7 separate regions of the Homo sapiens genome follow, and regions 1, 2, 4, 5, 6 and 7 are each linked to region 3. Evidence: fine-mapped expression QTL. A gene starts in region 3. Each other region holds a variant in brackets. All regions are shown on one strand. Distances are between the middles of the regions.

The links. PIP is the estimated chance that this variant, and not a neighbour inherited with it, causes the effect. A credible set is the group of variants that fine-mapping cannot tell apart.
Region 1: its variant is the best candidate, but not a certain one, in a credible set for the expression of MCTP2 in whole blood (TOPMed, PIP 0.59).
Region 2: its variant is the best candidate, but not a certain one, in a credible set for the expression of MCTP2 in blood mononuclear cells (TOPMed, PIP 0.86).
Region 4: its variant is the best candidate, but not a certain one, in a credible set for the expression of MCTP2 in whole blood (INTERVAL, PIP 0.83).
Region 5: its variant is the best candidate, but not a certain one, in a credible set for the expression of MCTP2 in whole blood (INTERVAL, PIP 0.67).
Region 6: its variant is the best candidate, but not a certain one, in a credible set for the expression of MCTP2 in whole blood (TwinsUK, PIP 0.57).
Region 7: its variant is the best candidate, but not a certain one, in a credible set for the expression of MCTP2 in whole blood (TOPMed, PIP 0.70).

The regions. Positions count from the first base shown.
Region 1 is chr15:94,165,983-94,170,051 of GRCh38, reverse strand. It overlaps the pseudogene H3P40. Among named protein-coding and RNA genes, the nearest start is that of LINC01581, 60 kb to the right of the region's middle. The variant A/G (reference allele first, on the strand shown) is at 2,427.
Region 2 is chr15:94,268,001-94,272,069 of GRCh38, reverse strand. All of the region lies in intron 1 of MCTP2 (multiple C2 and transmembrane domain containing 2), which reads right to left. Among named protein-coding and RNA genes, the nearest start is that of MCTP2, 38 kb to the right of the region's middle. The variant C/T (reference allele first, on the strand shown) is at 2,084.
Region 3 is chr15:94,229,518-94,233,586 of GRCh38, reverse strand. MCTP2 (multiple C2 and transmembrane domain containing 2) reads right to left here and starts at 2,026. Exons shown (of 23, transcript NM_001385001.1): 1 at 1,923-2,026. RefSeq lists a silencer at 1,967-2,096 and an enhancer at 3,632-3,771.
Region 4 is chr15:94,257,371-94,261,439 of GRCh38, reverse strand. The region is part of intron 1 of MCTP2 (multiple C2 and transmembrane domain containing 2); the gene reads right to left. Among named protein-coding and RNA genes, the nearest start is that of MCTP2, 28 kb to the right of the region's middle. The variant A/G (reference allele first, on the strand shown) is at 1,907.
Region 5 is chr15:94,404,373-94,408,441 of GRCh38, reverse strand. The region is part of intron 17 of MCTP2 (multiple C2 and transmembrane domain containing 2); the gene reads right to left. Among named protein-coding and RNA genes, the nearest start is that of MCTP2, 170 kb to the right of the region's middle. The variant A/G (reference allele first, on the strand shown) is at 1,961.
Region 6 is chr15:94,173,922-94,177,990 of GRCh38, reverse strand. No RefSeq gene overlaps it. Among named protein-coding and RNA genes, the nearest start is that of MCTP2, 56 kb to the left of the region's middle. The variant A/TTA (reference allele first, on the strand shown) is at 1,699.
Region 7 is chr15:94,340,100-94,344,168 of GRCh38, reverse strand. It overlaps MCTP2 (multiple C2 and transmembrane domain containing 2), which reads right to left. Exons shown (of 23, transcript NM_001385001.1): 6 at 3,894-3,970; 7 at 3,245-3,356. Among named protein-coding and RNA genes, the nearest start is that of MCTP2, 110 kb to the right of the region's middle. The variant G/A (reference allele first, on the strand shown) is at 2,090.

The sequences.
Region 1 (4,069 bases), 64 kb after region 3:
GAATAGAATAAGGGTTGTGAACAATTCTAGGGGAAAAGGACTATTAAAAAAATACATATAGGGCTGGGTGCAGTGGCTCATGCCTGTAATCCCAGAACTTTGAGAGGCCAACGTGGGTGGATCTGTTGAGGTCAGGACTTTGAGGCTAGTCTGGCCAACATGGTGAAATCTTGTCTCTACTACAAATACAAAAATTAGCCAGGCGTGGTGGTGCACACTTGTAGTCCCAGCTACTCAGGAGGCTGAGGCAGGAGAATTGCTTGAACTTGGGAGGCGGAGGTGGCAGTGAGCCCAGATCGCACCACTCCAGCCTGGGTGACAGAGCAAGACTCTGTCTAAAAATCAAAAAGAAAACAATTGGGTAATTAGGCTAGGGGATGCTTTTGAAAGCATAGTCTCAGTTGTGACCTAACGGACTCAATGACTTTGTTCACTAACACATTCTGCCTTTCATAGCCTCATCCCAGTGCTTCCTTCTGAGTTACTAAAAGTGATTATTTGTAACTCTATTTTAAAATAAGATTTCATTGATTTAAGCATTGAACTAATTATCCTTAAATAATATATCTGTTGGACAGGCAGGTAGAGGAGAGTTCTCATTATTCCTGGTCATCACCATGCTTCCATCCTATTCTATGCCTTTATTACAACACTGCCCTATCTAGGATGAAATTTATCTTCCTGACCATGAAAATTTCTCCTGAGACTGATGTGATTGCTGAAGACATGCTTGCTGACCACGACCTATGGAGAGTTTTTTAAAAATAGTTTAATGTATTTTAATAGCAAACTTACAGAAACAACACAGAAGAAAGACAACATTAAAAAACACGTACTGCATGTAGGACAATTCAGTGAGAAAAGTCTAGTGAATGGATGGTATCTGTCATTTGATAAAAATGCTACAAACACCATTTAGTTGCTGTCAATAAAACATTTACTTATTTTTTTTTAAAAAATCCAAATGCTAGCATTGTTCAGAAAAAAAATAACAGGTTTCTTAATTGTTATAAAGTTTAACCACTGAGACTTCTTCACTGAAAGGTTTGACTTGCATTAATGCTTCATGTAGGGACATAAATGCAGGGCATTTATACTAACAGTTCACACACAAACGAACACAGAAAAAAAGTGTCAATATCTGGTTTCTGTCCTCTGTTTTTTCACTGGCAATCATATACTTAGTTACCTTTTGACCCCATGGAAAAAAAAATATCTAACATTCAGAACCACCAATAACAAGAAGAAGAGAATTTTTCTCAGAATGAAATGTTCCCATCATAGAGGATTCTTAAGGACCTTCTCTACGTATGAGATGTGCTAGCTGGACGACTTTTGGCATAATTGTTACACATTTGGCATGGATAGTGCACAAGTTGGTGTCTTCAAAAAGGCCAACCAGATAGCCCTCACTCACTTGCCTCCTGCAAAGCACCAATAGCTGCGCTCTAAAAGCGCAGATGTTTTCAAGTCCTGAGCAATTACGTGCATCAGATGCTGGAAGGAAAGTTTGCAAATCAGAAGTTTGGAGGACTTCTGATAAGGTCTGATATCATGGAGTGTCACAGTAACCAGGCCTGTAATTATGAGTTTTCTTCACCCTTCCAGGAGAGGGCGCACTACTGCAAGCAGCTTCCACAGCCGGTTGCTTCCTGGGGGCTTTGCCACTGGTTGATCTGTGGGCAGTCGGCTTTGTACCAGCCACGGTCTTAAAAACCTCCTTACTTATCCCCTTCTCCTTCAGCTGGGGCTCAGCGAGCTACAGGTGGTGCTGGCATTAGAGATTTTATGATTGAGGTGTACTGTTTTGAAAATAGAATCTCAGGTTTGCTTTGTCAGATAGGCCATATCTATTTAATCTGGTTGTAGAATCCATACCCATTCTCCAACATAGTTTAGAACTAGTTATTAACAGAGGTACGCAGGTAAAAAGATCTTTCTGTCAGTACCCTTAAGAGGAAACGTGTACACACACACACGCACACGCGCGCGCGCACACACACACACACACACACACACACACACGATACAGTTTAGTTCATGGAGGCCTGCGCTGGCCACCTCCTGTCTTATTGCCTTTGGTAATGCAATCATAACATCTAAACTTAGCTACTGCACTGATTTATGTATTGTAGATATGGTTCTTCTTGATGGCGAGCAAGCAGGGGCCCTGGCTTGATTAAGAGGAAAGCAGAGGCCTTACCTATCTCTTTCACCGCTCTGCCTCCCAAAGCCTAGCACAGGGCCTGGTAAAACTTTAGTAATATTCATAGACTCAGAATGACAACGTGAATAATGACTCTAAGAATTCAGACCATAGGTTTAGAACCAAGGCTGTGAGTTTAAGAGTTTTACCGTCTTCGAATAAAACTTCCTCTCCAATCCTGTGAGTGTTGAAATCATACCCCTTTTTAAAGCCTTGGGGG[A/G]AAAAAAAAGAGAGAAAGCCCTTATGTGTATACCACTCCAAATGAGCAGGAAACAGCATAATTATTTAATGTGTGTATTAGCCTGTTCTCACACTGCTAATAAAGACATACCTGAGACTGGGTAATTTATAAAGGAAGGAGGTTTAATGGAGTCAGTGCCACATGGCTGGGGAGGCCTCACAATCATGAGAGAAGGTAGAGGAGGAGCAAAGTCAGATCTTACATGGTGGCAAGCAAAAAAAGAGAGCATGTGCATGGGAACTCCCCTGTATAAAACCATCAGATCTCGTGAGACTTATTCACTATCACGAGAACAGCACAGGAAAGACCCACCCCCCCCCATTATTCAATCACCTCCCACAACAAGTGGGAATTATGGGAGCTAAAATTCAAGATGAGATTTGGGTGGGGACACAGCCAAACCATATCAGTGTGCTCAAAGTAATAACATTTCTTCAGGAACTAGCCAGGAACTTTGAAAAGCAACAGATTTTCTTCACTCTACAGCTGCATGACTATGTGCAAAGTACAAAATGGAAAATCATGAAACCCCAAAGAAGAACTTGACGTCAGGGCAGATCTGAATTCAAATCCCTGCTCTTCCCCCTGGATTCATCATGTCTTTTTCCAGCCTTCCTTTTCTCATCTGTAGAATGGATGTGCTAATGTACTCACTTTTTAGAGTTGTGAGATAATTAAGCACTTAACATAATACATGTTAAGTGTATTAATATGTGTGTGGCACATAGTGAAAGTCCAATGTATGTTCGTTTTTTGTCAATTTTTAGTTCATAATTTGGAAATTAGCCATGACAATGATATTTCTGGTTGTTTTAAGGCATGAAATAAACATGTAAAATATCTTTTTGGGCTATTGCATTGATATTGGTCACAAGATGGATTGATGTAGATCACAAGACCAAACTGGGTTAAAAAAAAAATCTAATATGAGCCTGCTTTTTGTTTGTAAGTATATGGAAGAAATAGTGCCCAGAATAAAATCGGAACAAGGTGGAGGAAGGATTCATTCACACAAAACATTGCAACATTATTTAAAGTGAATCTCGGAGGCAGTGGGTTTTTTTTTTTATTTTAGTATTTTTGTGTGGGTGTGAGACGGGGTATCGCTCTGTTGCCCAGGCTGGAGTGCAGTGGCACTATCTTGGCTCACTGCAACCTCCACCTCCTGGGTTCAAGCAATTCTCCTGCCTCAGCCTCCCGAGTAGTTGGGATAACAGGCACGTCCCACCACACCAGCTAATTTTTGTATTTTTAGTAGAGACGGGGTTTCACTATGTTGGCCAGGCTGGTCTCGAACTCCTGACCTCAGGGGATGCGCCCACCTCAACCTCCCAAAGTCCTACTGAAAGGCGAAGACAGCTGGACCTCCTGGATCCAGTGGGGACTTGGGGAACTTTTCTGTCTTACAAGAGGTTTATAAATTCACCAATCAGTGCTCTGCAAAAATGCACCAACCAGCACTCTGTAGCTAGCTAGAGGTTTGTAAAATGGACCAATTGGCACTTTGTAAAATGGACCAATCAGCGCTCTGTAAAATGGACCAATCAGCAGGACATGGGGGGAGGACAAATAAGGGAATAAAAGCTGGCCACCCCAACCAGCAGCGGCAACGTGGTAGGGTC
Region 2 (4,069 bases), 38 kb before region 3:
TCCTGCCTAACATTATCACCACATTTAAAGGTTTCCTTGTCTAATAATTACCTGCAGAAACAGAACACCTGAACTATCTTTAGAACATCACCGGAATAAGGATAGTAGGAGGCAAAGGTATTAATTTCCAGTACAAAATCTTGTCCAACTTAGGTAAAGAAGTTATTTTAGGATGGTAAATGTAATTGAAAGGTTAGCCCAAAAGAAACACTAATTTAGAACAACAGAAACTTTATGCATATGTTCCAAAGCCATTTCTGGTGTGAAAAAGAATATGTTTCACAAATGGTGCATATTTTTAAGCCATAAAATCCAGACAAATTTTTCAGAAACAAAGCAAAATATTTTAAAGAAATCATCACATCTACCAAAGAGCAAGAAAGAAAATTTAAATTCAAATACCTATCTTTCAAATAAGTATATTATACCATTTATCTTTCTCTTGCTTCTAAAACATCAAGCCAGTAGTTTCTTTCATAACATAATCATTCAAAGCATGTCCCCAGCTCCTACCCATATTAACAGAAACAGCAAACACCTATTGTCTATCCAAAGAGCAATTACACCTCCTCCAAGCAGACAGGAAAACTCACTAATTCTAACATGCTACAAGTAGTTTTACTGATAACCTCTAGAGATTTGCAACCAATTTCAAAACATATACCCAAATATAATCACATCATTATGCCCTTAAGGTAGTCTCATGTAAGAATACAAGTATCATGCTTCCTTCAATTAAAAGAGATGAGAGAATAATATAATTGGAAGAGCAGTGAGTAGAGAAATCCAATTTTTGGACAACCTAATGTGTGGTATATCTTGCAAAGCTTATCAAAATTGTTTAGATGGGGAGTTTCCTGTAAATTATTAATTCCATCATCTGGATTTAAATCTATGTAACTAGTAGAAAGGATAACTTTTTTATGCACACACACTCTCGTCTCACATACATACACACAAATAGCATATGAAGTACTGTTGTAACTGACTGGTAACACTGTTGTGATTGACTGGTAATACAACCAAGTGTTACCAGTCAATTACAACTTCTTTGCCATTGCTGTTTTAAAATACTAATCCAGTCATCTGATACACATATTGACACCTAAGTAACGATGGGATATTCCAGCCACTAGGGATATATCAGTGAACAAGGCAGAGTACTTGCTTACATGAAAGTTATGTACTACTTGGAAGAGACAGACAATAATTTCTGTCTGTCTGTGATGGTAAAGGGAAGAGAAACAACCGAGTGGAAACAAAGGGTGGCTGTGGACAGCCAAGCATCTATTTTTCTATCATGCATCAGGAAAACACCCCTTAGATGAGGTAAGCAGAATGTGGAAGAAAGTGTGGGAGAACACCAGGGGGATACATGTAGCCAAAGAGCCTCTCACATAGCAGAAAGAGCAAGTGCAGAAGGCCAGGAGAGGGGGATAGGGGGTAGGCAGCCCACCTGGGGAGATGGAGAAAGAGCAAGGAGGCCAGTGTGGTTGGAAGAGAGCCAGAGAGGGGGACCACCAGGAGATGACCTCAAAGGGGAGCAGGAGATCGCATTGGACAGGTCCATGTAGGCCAGTCTGTGGACATCAGCTTTTACTGTGAGTGGGCTGGGAAACCACTAAAGGTTAAAAATGGCGTCAAACAATTCCTCTACTAGTTCCTACTAAGCATCTGGTCCTGTGTTCACTGCTTTACATACATCATCAGAAATCCTTAAAATGATCTTATACAATAGGTAATTTTACCTCCAACTTTACAGATGAAGCAAATGCAAACTGTTCAAGCTCACAGTGCCCGAAATTGAAGCCTCTCTATCTCAGTGTTGCTCAACAGGGGGTACTTCTGGCACTTGGGGTGGAAACATTCTTTGACATATGGGTCTGTTCTGTACACTGTAAGATGGCAGCTATCATAGTCCCCATCTCCTATGTGTCAGCAATGTCCCTGTCAGTGTGACCAGAAAAACCATCATATACATTTCAAAAGTCCCCAACAGGAACATAACGTCCACTAGCTGGAACCACAAGCATGGTGCCTGAATACCCTCACCACTGTGCCCTGCTTCTGTTATTTTATTCTG[C/T]TTGGAGAAAAGGGACAACTGGAAAAAAAATGTTACAATATAGATGGATAAGTGAAACGCTTTAGAGTTGAACCTTTTTTTTAGAGGTATCTTCCCTTACTTCAAACTCTGAAACAACAGTATCACGGCTAAATATCAGAGTTGGAACACAATTACCAAGCCCAGAGAATAACATAACATTCTTTAGCTACAGAGTTGAGCCCAGAGAGTCCTTGAAGTAATAAAACAACTTTCTGTGAACTCGGGAATATAATAGGCTCTGTGGAAAATATTCAGAGGTAAGGTCTTCTTCAGAACCTTGGTTATATTAAAATGTATTTGTTGAGTATTTCCTAACATGAAATACTAGAAAACTGTCTACAGCAATGGCTAATCACATATATGGGAGCCTGATAAATTTAACCCTTATAAAAGCTGCTCTGTCCACGAGAGAGCTTATACAAGACACACTGAAAATTAACACTGAGATATCAGTTTTCAATAATCTTCATAAGGCAATCATTGAAAACATATGATTCCAGATATCTGGAGTTGTAAAGACAAATCTACTCTATTATCTGTCTAAAACATCAATTATTCTATCAATTATTCTTACCCCTAAATTCTATCAATTATTCTTACACCTAAAGCCTGAATATTAGAAGAATTTGAAACTCTGCCCAAATCTTTATAAGGCACTTACTGAAAAAGATGACTTAAAATAATCAACATTTTAAGAATAAATCTATATGATTTGTGTAACTCATGATTCATGCTTAAAAGTGAACTTGAACAGAGCTTGAAAACTGACAGAATTTGAAACCCAAACTAACCAACCTCAGTGTGTCAACACGAGATACTTCAATGGGCCCTTTATAAATATCACGAAGTGCTAAGTGTGAAAGACAAATGAACATTGTTGGAGCAATTTAAAAAGTCCTTATACTAATCATTTAAACAATATTATTAAAATAGTATAATGCTAAGTGAAGAAGACACTAACATTGTTGGAGCAATTAAAAAACCCTTATGCTAATAGTTTAAAAATAATGTTATTAAAGTATTCCATCAATCCATCCCTGATTCAGAAGTGGAAATCTGGCAAACATGCTTTCCTTAGGTCCTAAAAACTACCAATAATATACAAAAAGATTAAAAATAAGAATCACTTAAAAAGTAGTCATCTCAGAGCTGACTCTACTCTTATCTCCTCAAAAAAAAAAAAAAAAGTCAATGTAGAAATGTTACCTGAGTATCTACTAGTTCTTATAAGAGTGGCACAAAACCTGTCCATAAGAAGTTTATGATCTACTGGTAAGAATTCATGGATAGCAAGGCAGTGTGGAACATATACTATGAATATACAGAAATAGAAGTTCTGACGGTATTTAATGAGGTGTTAATCACATAGTCTATACAAAGGAAGCCAGCCAAGGGAGAAAACAAGAAGGGGACACTTTCCCAAGAAAACGAGAAGGACAACAAAATAAAGATTGAAAAAGAAGAAAAGGAAAGTGGCCAGGCGCGGTGGCTCATGCCTGTAGTCCCAGCACTTTGGGAGGCCGAGGCAGGTGGATCACCTGAGGTCGGGAGTTCAAGACTAAACCTGGCCAACGTGGTGAAACCCCGTCTCTACTAAAAATACAAAAAAAAAAAAAAATTAGCCAGGTATGGTGGTAGGCGCCTGTAATCCCAACTACTCAGGAGGCTGAGGCAGGAGAATCACTGGAACCCAGGAGGCGGAGGTTGCAGTGGCCGAGATTGTGCCAATGCACTCCAGCTTGGGTGACAAGAGCGAAACTCTGTCTCAAAAAAAAAAAAAAGAAAGAAAGAATGAATTTGGGCCGGGCGTGGTGGCTCATACCTGTAATCTCAGCACTTTGGGAGGCCAAGGCGGGTTCATCACAAGGTCAGGAGATTGAGACCATCCTGGCTATCACAGTGAAAACCTCATCTCTACTGAAAATGCAAAAAATTAGCCAGGTGTGGTGGCGGGCACCTGTAGTC
Region 3 (4,069 bases):
TTTACACAAACACAAAGTCCTTTCCAGGTGACAAGAGACCGCTAATCATCTTGCAGCTGTAAGAAATCAAGCTGAAATTGATTTCAAAGCCCACTCAGCTGAGAAACTCACCTCTGCAGGAGGAGACCATAGTAAAGCACACCAATAATAGGAAATTAGCTGTTCCTTCCATGTATAACACAGAGAGAATATATATGCAATTTTATTAATTGGCCCTGTTTGGATATATCAGGCCTTTCAAAATATGTTAAGAGACATAATAAATTTTATCTTTTAACATATTTTGAAAGGCCTTTCAAAATATGTTAAGACACATAATAAATTTTATCTTTTAAAGCTACATCTACTAGTCACAGATAGGTCACAGCTTGACCACACAAGTGCAATGAAAACAGTGCTCACTTCATTCCTGAGGACTACTTTAACTCCATTAATCCCCAGGAGATAGGATCTATGAATATAAATTTGAATTCTTATATTAAATCTGCCGGATTTACACTCTCCATCTTAGAGACAGCATGGAATAGTGAAAAAGTACGAGTTCTGCACTCAGAAATAGCCACATGCAATTTCTAAATTCACCACTGACCTTGTACAAATTACTGGACTCCTCTCTGCCTCAGTTCCTTATCTGCACAGGGGAATAGTATCTACTTTGTAGATTTCATAGACAAGACAAAGTGCCTAGCATGGTGCTTGGCACAGAGCTAATTCTTAATAATCTTATTTTAAGCATGGTTTTGACAATTTTTATTGCTTTGGAATGACTGATCAGGCTAATGACAGAGACTCTTCAAAGATTTACATTCTCCCTGCATTTAAATACTTATAACCAGCGATTACACAGGTGCTGCTGAGGCAAAGCGCAGCACCATTGGTCTCGTTCTAAACACCCACCTGTGAGGAATAAGTGCCTTAAGATTCCCCTTTGTATTAATATCAACACCTGTGCTACCCAACAGCACACCAGCCCGGCTCTCAGAGGTCTGCCCGTTAACAGGTGTACAATAAATATTTGTTGAATTGAAATGCTACTGACTCAAGCAAAAAATGAATGCTAATGTAAATTATAATCCATACAAATCCTTCAATAAGTGGTGTCTGAATTCTGTGCGTCCTGAAGCAAGTGTTCTAACGTCTCACGGTTCACTGAGAAGCTGCTTGGTACCTTAAGGGTTCGCACCCTTGTACCTTCCAGACCAAGCTCTTGTAAGCATCTAGAGGAGGCTGAAACCCTCAGTCAGCATCGCACAGAAGTTCATTCAGACTAGAGAAAACCTCTTTTATGGCAACCCAATCATTTAAAAAAAGCCGTCAGCACATTTGCTTAACAAATGGACAGTGCAGGAGGGAACTAATTGCGGAAACTAATCGCCACTCAAGTTCACCACCAACATCACTGTCTTTATTTTTAACTTACTTATCTTCAGTGGGATTGAGACACTGTTTGTTACCTACGCAATTATCCCAAGGATTTCTGCTCCGGTGTCGTTGAGCAAATGTCAGCGCAAAGAATTAAAGTTGAACCTCCGGGTCTCTACGAAGAGAGCGTATTAAAGCCCACCCAGCTGAGGAACTGACCTCTGTGGAAGGAGTCCTGGATGTGGCGGTGACTACCTCCGTAGCGCCCCGGGGAGACTGAATGTGTGGCCTTTAAAATGCAAAGAAATTCTGGGCCAGGCTGCCCTCCCCTAGTGCGCCTTCCAGTACGCCACGCCTGGATTTCTGCCTCCAGTCCTCAGGACACCTTTCTGATCTCTGAACCACAAGCAGCTCCGGGGTAGTAGCGCCACTGAATTCTCATCCTGGACCCTCCAGCTCCCCAACTCCCAGCTTCGGTTGAGAGAAGACGCCCACCCCCAGGCGGCGACCGTGCTGCCCGGCCCACGCGCGCTGCCAGGTGAACCCGGCACCGCCCTCACCTGTGCGAGGCCGCGTTCGGGGGCTGCAAAGCTGGGCAGGCGCGCGCCCCTCACCTGCACCGGACCCGCTGCAGTCGCCACTCGGAAGCGCAGGGAGCAACCCTGACGCGGCGGGGGCGGGGGCATCACCGAGGGCCCCCGGACTTCCTCGGGCCCCCCCACCGCCCTTGCGAGCCCCGCCTAAAGGGGAGGAGGCGGCCGCGCGTCACCTTTGAGCAGCCTCCGACCCAAGCGCCCGCGCTGCCGCCGGGAGCTCGGCCGGGTGTTGCAAGGAGGCGCTATGCTTGGTGCTGGGCACTGGCTGGGCGTAGAGAAGGCGATTACTTGTAACTCATTCGTTTGGGTTGGCTCACAGGAAAAGGAAGGTGTGTCCAAAAAGTCCGAAGTGAGGAAATAGGACGAGGATGGCTTGCAAACTCGTAAAGTCTTAATAAGCTGTCTTCGCTGATACTCAGAAGGGTTCTCTTCGCTCCTGTAGGTCCCTAATAGATTCATGGGAAGACAGCAGCCTCCCTTTGTAACGCCCTGACCCTGGGAAGAGGTACCCGAGCCAGACAGCCTATTAACCTATGCCACGTGTGCGCGACTGTGGGTGGAAGATGCCCGCCCAGATCCACAGAACTGTTTCCTGAGCCTTGGTGCCTCATCTATGAGATAAGGCCGGCGTACTGCTCAGCAAGCCGTCCCGAGTACTCGGCAGAGAACCCTAAAGACCCTCCCGTGCGATTGTTGGCACTCAGCGAATATTTGCTATTTATTTCCCCTTTCCCTTACTTTCTTTTTCTACTTTTTTTTACGCCGCTTTCCTGCTGTAATTGTCTTATTGCACTTTGTTTGCTCGGTTTCACTGCCTGGTCAGTTTCTTTTCCCGTCTATGAACGAGCCTAAGTCTGTGCGCTCTAGGAATTTGGGTGGATTAGGAAAAGAAATGTATGATCCATGCCTTCTGGGAGATCAGGGACTCATCTCTGGGAAATAGCATTTTTAAATTAGATACAAGAGAGTTACAGAAAATAACCTTAAAACGGGAATGGGACCTCTGGGAATAGGCGAGCTCTGAAATGAAGCGTTTAGTTGGTGTCACTGGTGATTAAGAGCTCCGGCTTTGGAGTCAGACCTCAAATCAAATTCTGCCTGGGCAACTAATTGTGTAAATGGACGAGTTCACTTAACCTCTCTAAATTTTAACTTCAACAAACTGGTTGTTTAAATAGCTTAAAATAGCTTAAATAGCTTAAAATAATAGCTATCTCATACTTTCTGAGAAATTAATTAGGTAATTCACATAAAATCCTCATTACAGTGTCCTGGGCCATGGTAACCACTTAATAAAAGTTAGCTATTAACAATACTAAGGTAGGAAATGGGAGGAAGGGGCATAAAAATTTAGAAAACATGAGGACGTGATAGAAAACAGCTGCCACTGTCATGCAATTCCGACTTACAACAATAGCTACCACTGAGGAACACAACTTCGCACCAGTTTCTGTGATTGGCATGTAACACGTGATCATATTGAATTTTCACAAACCAGGAGACAGTTAATAAAATCTCTGATTCAAGATGAGGAAAATGAGCATCAGAACCATGAAATAACCTGCCTGAAGCTATGAGTCAAGTTAGTAGCCGAGTCAGAGCAAGCTGAGGCCTATGGCAAAATTGGCTTTTCCCACCGTGCCGAAGGTTACATCCCCTAGCAGAGAACAGAGAGAGGTAAGGGTAAAACAGCATGAAAGGAAGAAGAGAAAGAGCAGTAGGCAGACGAAGCAATCATACCTTTAAAGCTGACTAAGAATACAAATGAATTAAAATAGTAAGTGAACCCACACAAAAGCTTTTTTGCCTTTAACTCCTGCCCCAGTGGAGTTCCTGTTCTGTGGTTCCGGCAGTCCAACCGCATTTTTCAATCATTAAATGGTATAGAAAGTGAAACAACTAAAGATACAGAAATCTAAGGTCACAACTTGCCCTTCCCACCACAATACACTCATCTGCCCAGCTTCCTGGGTTTTTTGTTTTTAATTGTTCAAACATATTACCTGTCTCCTTTTCTATGTTCCACCCAGGAAATGTCCCTTCCAGGGAATAATATTGTTGCTTATACCAATTTAACTTTACTACATAACCACACCAGCATTTAGAATGGC
Region 4 (4,069 bases), 28 kb before region 3:
TGGTAGAGTTGTCACTAAGACTCACAGCTGCCTAACACAGAATCCACATGCTATCCACTCCAACTGTTTTACCAATCAGGTGGTAGTGTGAACCCAAAAAGTGTCTCAGACAGGTCTCAATCAATTTAGAAAGTTTATTTTGCCAAGGTTAAAGATGCACCTATGACACAGCCTCAGAAGGTCCTGATGACAAGTGCCCAAGGGGGTTGGGGGTACAACTTGGTTTTATACATTTTAGGGAGACATGAGACACATCAATCAATACATGAAAGATACACATTGGTTTGGTCCAGAAAGGTGGGACAACTTGAAGCAGGGGTGGGTGGTGAGGAGGCAGGGGAGCTTCCAGGTCACAGGTAGATTTAAAAGTTTTCTGACTGGCAATTGGTAAAAGAATCATCAATAGAAAGGAGGGTCTCGGTCATGATAAAAGGTTGTGGACACCAAGGTTTCATCGTGCTGATGAAGCTTCCAGGTAGCAGGCTTCAGAGAGAACAGGTTGTAAATGTTTCTTACCAGACCTAAAGAACTATCACTGTTCTATTACTGTTCTTTCAGTAATTCCAAAAGGGAGGAGGGTATAATGAGGCATGCCTGGCTGTCCCCTCCCATCATGGCCTGAACTCATTTTTTCAGGTTAACGTTGGAATGCCGTTGGCTGAGAAGAGGGGTTCATTCAGATGGTTGGAGGGCCTTAGAATTTTATTTTTGGTTTACACAGTCAAATTAACATTTTGAAACTGAAGTGAAATAAAGGATATCTGAGAGTGTACTCTGAACCTCTACTCCCCTTCTCTCACCTCTCTCCTCTACAATCTCTCATTTACACCACCAGAGCAACGGTCTTTTCAAGGTAGAGATGGAATCACCTTTAATGGCTCCTGCAGATAAACTTTGTACAAGTTCAAAGTCCTTAATATGGTGTTGGAAGCCCCATTTACTGTCTGCCCACAACCTGTATTCCCAACCACTCTGTGGCCCATGAGAGAAGACGAGAGGGCAGAAAGAAGAAGAGAGTTGGCACTGTCACTCTGGAAAGAATGCCAGCCTATCAATGAAGGCTGCACCCTCCAATCATGAGATGATGCCAAAGCTGAACAAGAAAGTTGAGTGGGCTGGACTCAGGGGGTAGACTGCAGCCTGGAAAGGAATGCTAAAGAGATGGCAGAGCCTCTGAATGCACCATGGCAAGCCCACTGGATCCTGAGTCGGGGAGGAATTTTCGCATACCCTTATTGCCCCTGAGGAACAGGAGAAGTTTCCGTGGCCAGAATCCCCAGGAAAGGCACTCAAGGTTCCTTGGGTAGAGAAAACAGAAGTGAGAAGACAACATGAGAGGTACAGGTGGAGCCTTTTCATATATTCCAGAGATAAAGCAAATGACCTCACTGGTGAACAGCCAAAGGGGAAGAGAAAGTGGTTGAAGGAGATTAAGAACAGGGCAGAGATCAGAAGGTTCCTTACCCAATGTATGATCTGGAAAGGACAATTACATGGTGATGTGGAGGGCATTCAGTGCACAAGGGTGAGACTAAGCCATCTGCTATTCCTGTCCAAACAATAACAATAGTTTACAAATGACTGAATCAGGACAGGCGCACTCTTCCCTACAGTAGAGACCTGGGGAAGCCTTTACAAGCGATCATGTCCATCAAAAAGCAGTATCCTTCACCAAATGATCATACAGCAATAACCTGAACAAAAGGGCAACAAGCTTCAAAGTAGAAATAATCATCACAGAGGTTAAACCAACCTTGGGCCAGGTTTGTTTTTGGAGTTCAGAAATTTAAGAATTTAGAGAGTGTATCATATATTACACAATACCCTAAATGGTTTGGAGACAGTATTTCATCATCAAACATATCACAATTCAAACTTAATGGGATATATAACTACTACATAGAAC[A/G]GAAATAGTTACACAAGAGTCCAAGTCAGAGTTTGCTACCAAACCCTGGTAAGGATTCTTACAAACAAAATCCTTTCCATTTGCAAAAGTTTCTGAATTGTGAATTTTTAGATAAAAGATTTATGAACTAGCAGTTAACAGCTGCAGTAACAGAACAGCAGCAGAAATAGGAGGAGAACATCAATTTCCCCTTCCTGATCACCACTCTGCCCCAGGTGCCAGGCTGTGCACTGTAGCATGTTCTCTTTAAAGGTGAAGAATTTGGAGTTCGATGAGCTTTATTCAGGACCTTTAGCAAACTTTTCTTCCCTTAGCCTCCCTAGGCAGAGTATGAGTACTAATGGTGTGTTTTTATTCAGGTCCTGCAATCCCATGACCTGGACTAGGCTGGGTGGGGTGAAGGGGGTCCCCAGAGTGAACTGAGTGAGCATGGCCCAGGGAGAGTCCAGCATAGCCACAGAGTGTAGGAAGAAAATATTGGAACTTCCATTCACACTGACTTAATGTGTTCTTTTAATCTCTATTTTAGTGTATGCTGAATAATGTATATATATTATCAGCACCATAGTACATGTACATAATTTATAAGTAAATATGTAAACTTATATATTGGGTGTGTCTGCTCAAAAAGTACCTGCTTGATAGGGCGTATGATCAAAAGAATATGCAGAGAACAGTTCTAGAGCATCTGAATAATTAAATCCTTTAACCTGTTGGAAAACAAATAACAAAACTGCAATACCAGGAAAAGAATTTGTTTTCTCCCTTTAGGCAATAACTATTTTCAGAACTGTATCTCTCCTTTTAGAAAGAAGAATCAGGTAATGAACATAATGCAAACCAGACAAGATGAAATAGACAAGATTTTTTTGGTTTTTTGGTTTTTAGTTTTTTAAGGCAAGCGTGATTTAAATAGGGTTTTCGGTAACTACCATTGTCACCTCTACTAAATGGTGTTTCTCTTGGGAAAATTCATTAACTATTAATTTCAATAAAGGATCTCATCTGTCTCAAGTCACTCTTACATTTACAAACTACACCATGCATGCACCACTTCCTTTTTACTTACTCTGGCACATTCAAATAATTTGCATTTTCAGAAGTAGACACAGATGCTTTTTTGTGGACCCAGGTGATGGGGCAGAGGCAGGATAAAAAGATTTGCATGTCCTTTGAGAGAGGAGTCACTCATAATTAGAAAAGAAATTCAAACTCACAATATAGAAATAAATCTGTTTACCATAACCTGGGCTTAGAGAAATCTGGATAACTGAAGCATTCATTTAGTTGTGACATTATTAAGTAACCAAGGAATTAGAAACCCTCCTGGGATTTGAGCACATAAATGTTCAATATGTGGCCAGGCACAGTGGCTCACACCTGTAATCCCAGCACTTTGGGAGGACGAGACAGGCAGGTTACTTGAGGTCAGGGGTTCGAGACCAGCCTGGCCTACATGGTAAAACCTCATCTCTACTAAAAAAAAAAAAAAAAAAAAATGACATGGTGGCAGGTGCTGTACTCAGGAGGCTGACACAAGAGAATTGCTTGAACTCAGGAGATGGAGGTTGCAGTGAGCCCTGAGAAGATCGCACCACTGCACCCCAGCCTGGGCGGCAGAGCATGATTCCATCTTAAAAAAGAAAATGGGCCAGGCACGGTGGCTCACGCCTGTAATCCTGACACTTTGGGAGGCCGAGGAGGGCAGATCACAAGGTTAAGAGTTCAAGACCAGCCTGGCCAACATGGTAAAACCCCGTCTCTACTAAAAATACAAAAATTAGCTGGGCATGGTGGCACACACCTGTAATCCCAGCTACTCAGGAAGCTGAGGCAGGAGAATCGCTCGAACCTAGGAGGCAGAGACTGCATTGGGCCGAGATCATGCCGCTGCACTCCAGCCTGGGTGACAGAGCAAGACTCCGTCTCAAAAAAAAAAAAAAAAAAAAAAAAAAAAAAAAAAACAACAAAGAAAATGACAACAAATATTTTTAAAATGTGATAGTTCTGAAAAAGCCCAAACAATTTTTCTTTGTAATGCTACCAGGGCATTGTAGGGAACATACACCACTGTTACCACACGCAAAATATATGGGAGATAAGGTTGAATTTTGTCTAATCTAGCATCTACCCTCAAAATTCCTCCTTTCAATGGATGCTAGG
Region 5 (4,069 bases), 170 kb before region 3:
CTATCTTATATATGTTAAAACCATAAGATGCCAAATATTTTAAGCATTGAATATACCTATATATTTTGCATATATGTGTATATGGTTCTGTGTGTGCACTTATATATACACACTTTTAAGATGTCTAAAACCCCTCTTCTTCTGGTTATTGTAACTGAAATTTCTTTTTTCCAGCTTTACACAAATACTTTTAATTTTTGAGCATCAACTGCACACACACCTAGCAAATGGGCAGCGATGTCTGCTCTGCACATCCAGTTGTGACTTCTGGTGGATGTCATAGCCAATGAAAGAGCTTAATGAAATGCAGGTGCATTTCGTTGTGAGTAAACTGGTGACAGAACTTAAAGTAAATCTTTTAGACACAGTTAACACATAAATATCGAAAGCATCAAAAAGACATTTGACCAGCATTATTTAATGAGTCGAATCTCAAAACAGTGTTGCATTTGTCATTTGTACCAAAGCAAAATGAATCTGAATGTTTTTCGGTCCACAGAGAAATCATGGAAAACAGCAGTCCTCAAGGCCTTGCCTTTGGTTTTTACTAAACTGCTTTCACAAAACATTCAACAGAGCAACTTTTAATTTCCCAAATGTCCTCTGCTTCTTCGTGTTCATGCATGTGTGTGTGTGTGTGTGTGTGTGTGTGTGTGTGTGTGTGTGCACAAGTACATGTGTGTTGGAAGGGTTGGCTCTATTACTGCTACTGTTGTTTTTAAGTTCTATGTGAAATTACTTCACATTTTCTCAATATTCTAGGATCTCTAAAAGCTAAAAATTCTATATATGTTAAATATGGGATATTACCAAGCGAGTGGACAGTTGTATTTTTTAACTTTATTGAGGGAGAGGTTGATTGATGCTTTAATTTGTGTATCATATTTCAGTCCTTGTCAACTCTGAAAAGTAAATTCTTTATTTCCCTATACTCAAAAAATCGGAAAAAAGTCACAGATGTTAAAATCATAGCTTTATGAAGATACTCGTTGATATATGGTAGATTTAGATTACTTTTTAGATCAAACATCCAAGTAAAAATTTAATAAAGCAAAGAATCCATCAATGCCCCACAAACTTGCCTCCCTTGATACAATAGGTGTGTGCCTGAAATATCGGTGGAAAAATGAAACTGCATAAATGCAATTCTATGTTAAAAGCATCAGAACTTTGCTGTTTAAAATCACCTTCTGATGATGCCATCTGTCAAGTAAATAATATTTTAACATATGAAAAATGCATTTATATAATAATATAACTTTAGGACTTTTAATAGACAACATTGGGGTTTATAAAATATAAGTATGTCATAACAAAACACCCATACATGATTGGATCTACCAATATAAATATCACAATGCAAAGTTATCTTTTGAGAACAAATTTATCTTTATTATGATCAAATAATGTATTTGCACTGAGACACTGGGTATATAAAATAGAGATCCCCACTAGACATATGGGCCTATCTCTTTTATAGCTATTATTTCAAGATATTTTAAAGGAACATAAGGGGTGGTTATTCTCTTCTACCCCATCCCTTTTCTGAACAACTTGGAATACTTAAAAAAAAAAAAAAAAAACAACTGAAAAGTCCAATGCCTTCCATGATCCCTTCCACTAGTTGTTTTCTGTTTTTACTTTCTTCTCCCCTTGAAAATCCCTCTACATCATCTAAAAGCATTCCTCAAAGGTGGGGAAAAACAAGTCAGACTGTAATTTGGGACTCAGTCTAGAACCAAGGCTCTAGGGTTTTTCAAATTATCCAGCTGGATTCCAAGGATGCCAAATGCATGTGATGCCCAGGGGCTGGGCATTTCCATGTTTGGCTTCTTTAATTTTGGTCTCATCATCACTTGTGAATAAAATAACTGAGCTAAAGAATTATTCTCGCCCATGTAATGAGGGTTTCTTTCCTGTATAGCATCACAGCTTGGAACAGGCTTAATCCCCACACATA[A/G]TATCTAAATACAGATCTGAAACAATCAGTATGGTTGGTCCCGGTGTCACTATGTAAATACAAGGACAACAAACATTGCATCCTGGGCATCAGTGAGAGGCAGAATAGCTGAAGGGTTAAGCCTGCACAGACTAAAGCAAGATGGCCTGGGTTTCAATTCCACCTCTACCTCATACACACACATGAGCTCTGTCACTGTACTTGACCTCTATAGGCTTATTTTTCTCATCTGTAAAAAGAAGATAGTAATCACCACCTACATCAGCAGGTTGTTGTGAGAACTAAATTTATAAAATCCTTGGGACAGTGTCTAAGCACTGAAATAACATGAACTATGAATAATAGTTCAAATAGTCAAAATCTGTGTGGGAATGGCCATGTACACGTCTTGTGTATGTATATAAATGTATATACATGTGTATAAAATACCACATATATTTACAAATCTATTCATAGGGAAATATACAGGTGCACTTACTTCAAGGCAAAATATTTCAGTTCTATTTGGCCTCATTCACTAAGTCAACATCTCATATTAATTTGTTTTTCAAATGGGAAAGTCAAGAATGTTACTTTCTGAAGGAAGAAAAAAGAAAAAATATATCCTTAATTTAATATAACTAAGTAAACCTTAGAAAAGGCAAGATACCAAAATATCTGAAAAACATAGGGGAAAGAGAAAGACCCAGAAGACAAAATGAGAAAGATTTTCAATGTTCATCCTAACAAGAAGAACTGAGTCTATAGAAACTTGACTTGGAATGGTCTGACCACCCTACAAATGCCCATGTTTAATTTCTTATGATAACAATAAATTCAACACTATGCAGCAACATTAACATAGCAGGTGCATTACTGATAACTTTCTTCTCTCATGTTGGGAATACAACCACTCCTGTAAGTGTAGCAGTGATAAATCGCATGGTAGAGGAAGGTGATGCTTGGGTCATCTAGCAAGGTGAGTTCTCTCACGTTTGTCCATCCACTTCTGACGAGACACCATGCGGACCTAGATCTTAAGAGCCTGCTTTTCTTTAACTGCTGCTTTCAACAAGATACGATTATGTTCATGCACATGTACATAGGCATCCATGGAAAACGTATGGTTTGCTTTCATAAAGTCTTAAAATTGACATTGAGAATAGATTAAACATGATTCTGCAATGTTCATGTTTGTATCACCTGGAGCTAGAGTCTAGAACATAAAGTTAATATTTTATGTTTTCTCAAAAAACAGAAGAAAAACACATCCCTTCAGTTCTGCCCTTAGTTTGTTGTGTTAGCATCACTTCCTGTACTGTCACAAGAAGAAAAGCCCCACCAGGGACTGGTTCAACTAAAATAGCTCCTTTCACACCTGTGTAGCAAACCCTCAACTATCACATTCGCTAATTTCAATTAGAGGACCTGACTACGGGTCATTTAATAAATCCTTGGCTTAAAACCTTGCTTCAGACAGCGCCTCTGTTCTGCCCTGTCATGCCAAGGCGAGCAGTTGGAACATGAACAAAGTGTCACAATGACGAATAAAGACACCAAGCAGCATTCTGTCAACAGATCACAGGAGAACATCCGTCAGTGTGTGTCACCCCTGACAGATATGGCAGTTGCATAGTGAAGAAAGGCAGAGGAGAGCCTGGGCTTGAGGATCCAACATTTTGCAGAAAGACAACCCATCATGAAGCCCCACAGACTCGGGGACACAGCACTACAGCCAGGGCAGCCCCCTAGGTGTGCAACCCGCCCCGCCAATCCAGTCCCCTACAGACAGCTAACAGGTCTACAGGCAAGGTACATAAATGAAGGCGTTTTCAAAGAAAAGGACATGAAAGCTTGGCTACCCATAATCTTACCAAAAGAAGAATGAAAGAAGATGAAACGGAGGCCAGGTGCGGTGGCTCAAGCCTGTAATCCTAGCACTTTGGGAGGCCGAGATGGGTGGATCACAAGGTCGAGGTTCAAGACCAGCCTGGCCAATATGACGAAACCCCGTCTCTACTAAAAATACAAAAATTAGCCGGGCATGGTGGTGCGTGCCTGTAGTCTCAGTTACTTGGGAGGCTGAGGGAGAAGAATCGCTTGAACCCGGGAGGCAGGGGTTGCAGTGAG
Region 6 (4,069 bases), 56 kb after region 3:
GTTTAATTGACTCACAGTTCTTCATGACTGGGGAGGCCTCAGGAAACTTGCAATTATGGCAGAAAAGGGAGTAGGCACGTTTTACACGGTGGCAGGCAAGAGAGAATGTGTGAAGGAGAAACTGTCAAACACTTATAAAACCACCAGATCTCCTGAGAACTCACTCACTATCACGAGAACAGCATGGGGGAAACTGCCCCGATTATCTAATCACCTCCCTCCCTCGTCACCCGGCGATTACAGGTTCCTATTCTGACATGTGAGGATTACAATTAGAGATGAGATTTGGATGGGGACATAGAACTAAACCATAGCAGAGGTAAAGAGAGAGAGAGAGAGAGAAAGAAAGAACTTCAAACATGTCCTTTCATAAAAATCCCACTTCCTGGATACCAGCGTTAATCCATTCAGGGGATCAGAGCCCTCATGATCTAATTACCTGTTAAACGGCCCCCCTTCCAACACTTCTGCACTGGGATCATGTTTCTAAAACATAAACTTTGGGGAATATATTCCAATCATAGGACCCATTATGAACTGCATGTCTAATCCATGTAGCAAAACGTCATGAGGAAGTGGTGTATAGATATGAGGCCTGCACAAGCCCTAAAGGCACAAATAAATTACATCAACACATGACTCGCATTTGTTGCATGCCTACTCCCACCAACCGTATCATGAAAGATTATCTATTACACTCTGTATGCCAAGAGAGCAAGTGGCTTCTTCAGATTGCTAAATGTTTCCATCCAAGACTGTGATAGAGTCATGGAAATAAATCCTAATTCAGTCCAACCTGAAAGGGCGGGAAAAAGGAGGTATCCTCCTGAGTCACTGGGGAAAAGTCCATGATATTGTTCTTGATTATAAACTGGATTATGATAAAGATGCCAGAAAAACTGCTGAAAGAAATTCAACAAAGATCCCAGAGAAATGCAGAACATCAGAGTATAGGTGAAAAATATGATGAGGGAAAGAGATCAAAGGAAGGGGAGAAAGGGTGAAGAAGGCTTGAAAACAAAGTGAAAGGGCCCAATGGGAGCAAGAAAACAGATGACTTTCCAGAGCTCAGTTAACTTTATCTAGGTGGCTTTCCTGGGGAATGCCTGGTCATTTTTCTGAAGGAATTCCTGAAATAGGAGGGGGCATGGTAGAAATGACAGGAGTGTCTGAGCTTAATGACAACTTGGTGATGCTGAAGTTCTCAAAGCTACATAGTCTCCAGAAGTTATGGTGGCTTTCTAGCATATGGCACAGAACCTAACAGGTAAGTTGAAGTAACAGAACAATCCAACATTTACCACGGTGTTTAATACTGGTACTCCAACCAGATCCCCATGGATTCCCCTTATTCTATTTTTAGGGCCCCAGAACTTTGAGGAACTTTTGGTCTTAAGAGCCAGCGTATGCTCTTCTTATTGTAGAGGACTGTTCATGGCAGAGTCTGAGAATTTACTTTCTCCTAAACCAACGATGGGTTTGGAAGTTTTATAATCCTGTAACCCTTACCAAGGGACAGCACAGTGGTGAGTTCAACAGACACTCCTGTGGGAGAAACTGAAGCAACTCCCTGAAAAACTTGACCTGAAATCTTGCTCCTGCTTGGCTTCCCCATTCTTTCACAGGTTTCCCTTGGGATTTCTTTATTGTAGTTTACCTGTACAACACTCCCCATCCTTTTTTTTTTTTTTTTTTTTT[A/TTA]AGACAGAGTCTTGCTCTGTCACCCAGGCTGGACTGCAGTGGTGCGATCTTGGCTCACTGCAATTTCCGCCTCCCGGGTTCACGCCATTCTCCTACCTCAGCCTCCAGAGTAGCTGGGACTACAGGCGCCTGCCACCGCGCCCGACTAATTTTTTTGTATTTTTAGTAGAGACGGGGTTTCACCATGTTAGCCAGGATGGTCTCGATCTCCTGACATCGTGATCCGCCCGCCTTGGCCTCCCAAAGTGCTGGGATTACAGGCGTGAGCCACTACGCCCGGCCACACCCCCCATCTTAAAGTCTGCTTTGGGGGCAGTTGGCTTCTAACACTAATCAAGCTCATCAGTAAATAAACTTTCAAATTTAACTATCTAATAGGGCTTTCTCTGGCTTAGAGATGGCCGCCTTCTTGCTGTGTTCTCACATGGTCTGTCTTCTCTGCATGCCTGCATCCTGGTGCCTTTTTGTGTGTCCAAATTTCTTTTAAGGGCATCAGTCAGATTGAAGTAGGACCTACCCCAAAGGCCTCATTTTAATTTAATTACCACGTTGGAGGACCTGTCTCCAAATACAGTCACATTCTGAGAGACTGGCTGTTGGGGCTTCAACATAGGAGTTGGCAGGGGACACAATTCAGCCCTTGAGAGTTGCATATGGGTTAAGAATTTCAAGTGTGAAATAGTTCATGCTCCAGTTTGAATAGGAAATGATTTAATCAGAAAGAGGCAAATATTACTCATTATTTACACAAATAAAGTTAGTGTTTGGTTAAAAGCTACTGAGGTATTTTGATTTGTTTTTAAACTGTCATTTGTTTAAAAAGATTTATTTTGATAAGATGTTTGGAGCCACTTGTATAGGATTTGGTAGGGACTTGAATTGCCTGGTAGGGAAATAGCCATCTTTTTATAATCTTATATAACATAAGCCCCCGTGAAAAAATTAAAAATAGACTGGCTGAAGAGAATTAAAATCTTGCAATGTAATGAAGAGCATCATTGTGTAATTGTACAAGAGGGTTGATTTATCATCAGGTAATCTCATTTCTGCTTTTGTCCAATATATAACTGAAATATTTTTTAAACATAAAGTTAGTAAAAGACAGTTGAAAGGATATTGCAACTATACACATACAGGACTGGCCGGGTGCAGTGGCTCAGGCCTGTAATCCCAGCACTTTGGGAGTCTGAGGCGAGCAGATCACCTAGGTCGGGAGTTTGAGACCAGCCTGGCCAATATGGTGAAACCCCGTCTCTACTAAAAATTCAAAAAATTAGCCAGACATGGTGGTGTGCGTCTGTAATCCCAGCTACTTGGGAGGCTGAGGCAGGAGAATCGCTTGAACCTGGGAGGTGGAGGATGCAGTGAGCTGAGCTCGAACCACTGTACTCCCGCCTGGGCACAACAGAGCGAGACTCCATCTCAAAACAAAACAAAGAAACAAAAAACAGGACCACCAAAGGCTGAAATACTCATGTATGACATTTTGGGTCACCCCACTGATTAAGCACTCCAACTGCTGAAGTGCTGGCAGGAGGCAAAGTAGCCATGGAGTGAGCCATAGAGTCATTAAGCCATCAGTATCATGCACAGGCATGGGACCTGTGCAAAGAAGATGACTAAAGCCATTACTCAGAATTTCCTTCCTTTTTGTGGCATGTAAATATTTTAACTAACTTCCCTATTTGTGTGGCTTTCCACAAAGATTGCATATGCATTGGTATCATCTAACTTTGTAATTATTTTGTGGTTTGAAATAGAATTGCCACAAAACTGAAAAAAGAAATAGATGTTAGTCAGAGGTCTTAGGGTTGAAACTTGAAGAAAGTGGAGAGAGTATAGTGGCTTCCTTTTGGAAGTGGAATATGTTCAGTAGAATAAGGGTAAGCTTGTTTATCTTTGGTAGGAGCTTTTTATTGTGTGTTATGTTTTGTTTATGTCTAGACAATGGTGGGGTATGGTGTGGTGGGTATGCATGTTTTATTCTAGCAACTCATGATCATAAGAGCCTTACTTTTTGAAGGAATTCCTGCATTGTGTGTCCTGGTGGGACACTGTGACTTGGGTGTCTCCCAAAGCAGGAGAGCAGGTACTCTTGAAAGTCATGGTGTGGAGGAGTGGGAAGGTGATGAAGGTTTGGCTGGTAAGACATGCACAGCCAAGCTTTTGAATCTTGGGGAGCGGTTGACAGATTCACAGCTTAAAGTTGTCACCAGCAGTAGCCTAAAGACACCAGTGTTATCAGCTTTAGTGTCCAGTGGCAATAGTACCAGTGCCCATGACTTAACCTCAGTTCATCCTGTGGTTTGAACTTGCCTGTGTTTTTGGATCCCAGTCTTTGTTGGTTTAGCTCTGATTATCTGGTCTTCTG
Region 7 (4,069 bases), 110 kb before region 3:
ATTACATGTCCCCCAGTGATATTGGGAGTTCAACATTCAGCCTATGACAGAGTTATAGGTACTATAACCTGGATATTAATATCAGGGTTTTGTTTTTTTTTTTTGTATTTTCCTGAAATAGTGACAGATATTTTCACCCAAACCAACCACCAAAATTAATTACCATCTTTTAGGTACACAGGGCTATTTAGGCCTTTTGACACATAGGAACGCATTTGATATTTTTTAACAATTACACAAGATAAAGCATGTAAATAAATTAATGGAAAATGACTATTACTATTCACTTCCTACAATGCTACCAACTACCATATATTGAGTGTCTCTACCCAATTCCAAGCACCATATTTGATAATTTCAATCTTCACAACCCTATAAAACAGACACTCTTTTTATCCTTGTTTCACATATGAGGAAATTATAGCTTAGAGAGGTTAAATAATTCTTTGAGTTAACCAGACCACTGGTGGATCTAGGATTCAGACCCAGGCAGTCTGAGAACAGAGCTCCTAATTTTAGCTACTATTTTTTTCCTGTTTTTTGCCACAAAAAAAGAACACAGAGTATGTTTGTCAGCCTTGCAGCCAGTGTCTTCCCTTCTGCCTGCACCATTCTCATATACATTTAAGTCCCTGGACACAAGAGTAAATTCATAAACATTTTGTACATACTGAGATTTTTGTCAGCTTGGTTCTAAAGCAACAAAGGCTACCTCAAAGATGACTGGAAGAAAAAGGGGTAAAAAACTGAGAATTTAAACTGAAATCTCTCCATCAGAGTTTAAATTAAAATGGAAATTTATAAACAAATTATCTCACCCAAATAATCTACTGATTTCCAGTCCCAAGTGCTAGTTATTCCCACTTAAAATCCCAATATAAAAATCTCTTTAAATATTAACTCAAACTCAATGAAAAGAACAAAGATTCTGATAATCTATTTTACCCCAAGGCTCCCAATATGCACTGTTAGCTGAATAACCACACATGGCCCAGAATAAATTATTCCTCAATTAATTTTCTTTGATCAAATATATAAATGGAAAAAAACTACCAATCAGAAGAGATAAGAGTAGGCAGTTGTCTATATTTCCATTATATATATATATGTTATATATATACATGTTTATCTCCATATGTATATATATATAGGTATTCATATATGTGTATATGTGTATATATGTATATGGATCCATATATATGTGTATATATACATGTATCCATATATATATACACACACATACATATATATCTCCATATACATAAATATGGATATAAAAATTCACAAAGATAGCTATTTGAATATGCAGCTATTTTCATGGAGAAATCAACTACCTTTACAAACCCAACTTGAATAAATATGGATATGGAGATAAATATATATGTATGTGTGTGTATATATATGGAGATATATATGTGTGTGTATATATAAATATATATGTGCATATATAGAGATATATATGTATGTGTGTATATATATGGAGATAAATATATGTGTATATATGGAGATAAATATGCGTATATATGGAGACAAATATATATTTGTGTATATATAAATATATATGTGTGTGTGTGTGTATATATGGGGATAAAAATATATTTGTGTGTGTATATATAATCAATATAGTGTACACTAGGCTTCTGCCAGACAAAGACAAAAGAAAATAAGGAAGCACATGAGTGAGCGGACAGACATTCTGACAAAGTCTTCAACATGGGAGGTGGGGAGTCAGAGGAAACCAGGCCTACACTAAGAGGAAATATGGCTATTCTTGAGCCCTGAAAACATAGTCTCTTTGAGATCTTTTACAAAAACAGCTCCAAGCTGAGTCTAGTATTAACTGTTCTGCAATTTGAAATAAATTGAAACTAAAATGGCATTATGTTAAAACTCTAAATTTTGACAATATTAAATATCTTTTAAGTGCCAATATTACTGCTAAACATAATCTAATATGCTATAGAAAACTTCACAAAGGCAGTCATTTGAATATGCAGCTATTTTCATGGAGAAATCAACTACCTTTACAAGCCCCACTTGAATATATAAGAAATTTTTTGACGATATCAGCTGGCAAGTTGTCAACCAC[G/A]TGACAAATAACTATTTACATTGCATGCTATAACCTAGCCCCCAGCTCAAGTCACCGGTCACCTACTGTATCACTGACACTGAATCCAGAGTCACGGATGCAGCAGCAATGCTGTCAAGATCAAGAAGAAGCTAAAGAAAATCCCTCCTTCTTTAGGTGGGATGAGAAAAAATACTTTTATTTTCAACATTAATTTAAGACATTTTAACATTAAAATATCTCTTTTATTGAGGTCACAAGTGTCAACAGGGCCACTTTTTAAAAAGAAGTAATAAAAGGAACTCAAGTTAAAAATAGCAGATATTTAGTTGAATCTTTGAAAAGGTAACTGAAAAGTCACACTACAGTTTTCCTACTGCTTTAAGCTATCTTCTCTGAGTTTACTAGTAAATCAATCACGGTTTTCATCATAAAAAGCTACAACTAGAAGCATAAGTGATGTCAAAAGAAAAATATTCTCCTCACCCACCCCACTGCCTCAATTCAAGAAGCATTACTGGAGACCTAATTATAAATAGGCTTTATATTTTTATATTGGATTATAAACATGCTAAATTATAACACATCTTAAAAAGCAGGTACTTCAATTGGCTTTAAAAATACTTTTCAAATAAGTCATCATCAAAGATGCTTTTGTTCTAATATAGCCTTAGAATTATAAAATATAATCCCAAATAAAATAAGATTATGATTTGTATCCACATTTTTGCTCAAAAGAAGAGTCCCAATCATATTGTGACAAAGTCTAATGCTTCACTGATGTTACAGACATCTTTGATAGGTACTGTATCAACTAGAAATTTGCATGTACTAGACTAGAGAACATTAAAATTTGTATCTTCCCAAAAGAACTCCCAATGGAAAACTTGGTAGCTAAAAGTAAAAGAAGAAAGAAGAAACCAAAATGCTGCAAATGTATGCCTGATCATCTTAATAACACAAAAGAAATAATTCCTTAACAAATTTCCTTTCCGGTTCCTCAAAGAAGAGCATTGTATTAAAAAACAGATATTTTAAGACTCCATAAAATGTTGCACCCCCCCTAAAATAATTGCAAAAACATCAGTCATCTGCTAGCTATCAAGGGACAATTGCAATGAGCCATTTCAAAACGACAAAATGAGAGGTTTCAAAAGAATAGAAGGTCCCACTTACGTGTCTCTTGAAATCACCCTGTTTTACCACTAGGTTCAAATTTAACACGATCACTCCCATGTCATCTTCTAAACTGTTTGGATCTTCCAGTTTTAAAATATGTTCAGTTGTTCTACAAGCAAAAAGCAACAAATAATGCTACCACTTATTGACAGGACTGTATTGACCTACACGCATCAGGAGCTTATGGTAAAAGTCTCCTACCTCTGAATAAGGATTAGACATGATGTTAAGAAAGCACAAAATTTAGTGAAAATAAAACAGTTATATTCAGAGTAGAGAAACTGTTTGGCATTGTTTAATTCAACAGTTGGTTAACTGATCCCCCTCCCCTACCACTCAAATAAAATGTAAACACTTGTTTTAATTTTAAGTTATGTTAATGAAACTGAATATTAACAAATCAAAGTATGAAATCCAATACACACTTTAGAATGCATTATAAAATACTTAACATCTGACTAATATATTTGGCACCTGGAAAGCAAAAATCCTTAAAAATACACTGACAGTTATAACACTTTAAAGCTCTCTTTCATTTGTTCAGATATGTTATTTTTGTCATTTGACCTCAACAAGCACCATTTAACATTATCGTAAGTTCCCTCTAAAACTCATCAATAACAATTAAAATGTAAAAATACGGTACCTGTTAAGCTCAAGATCACTGAGAATGACAAATGCAGAACCCATGAAATCAGATGTGGTTAAATCTCGATCATATACCTACAAAGAGGACAGAGGTCAATTAACACATTATTATGGTAAACCAACTGAGTTTTTCAAATTATTAACAAATGCAATAGGTTGGAAATTCTGAAATCA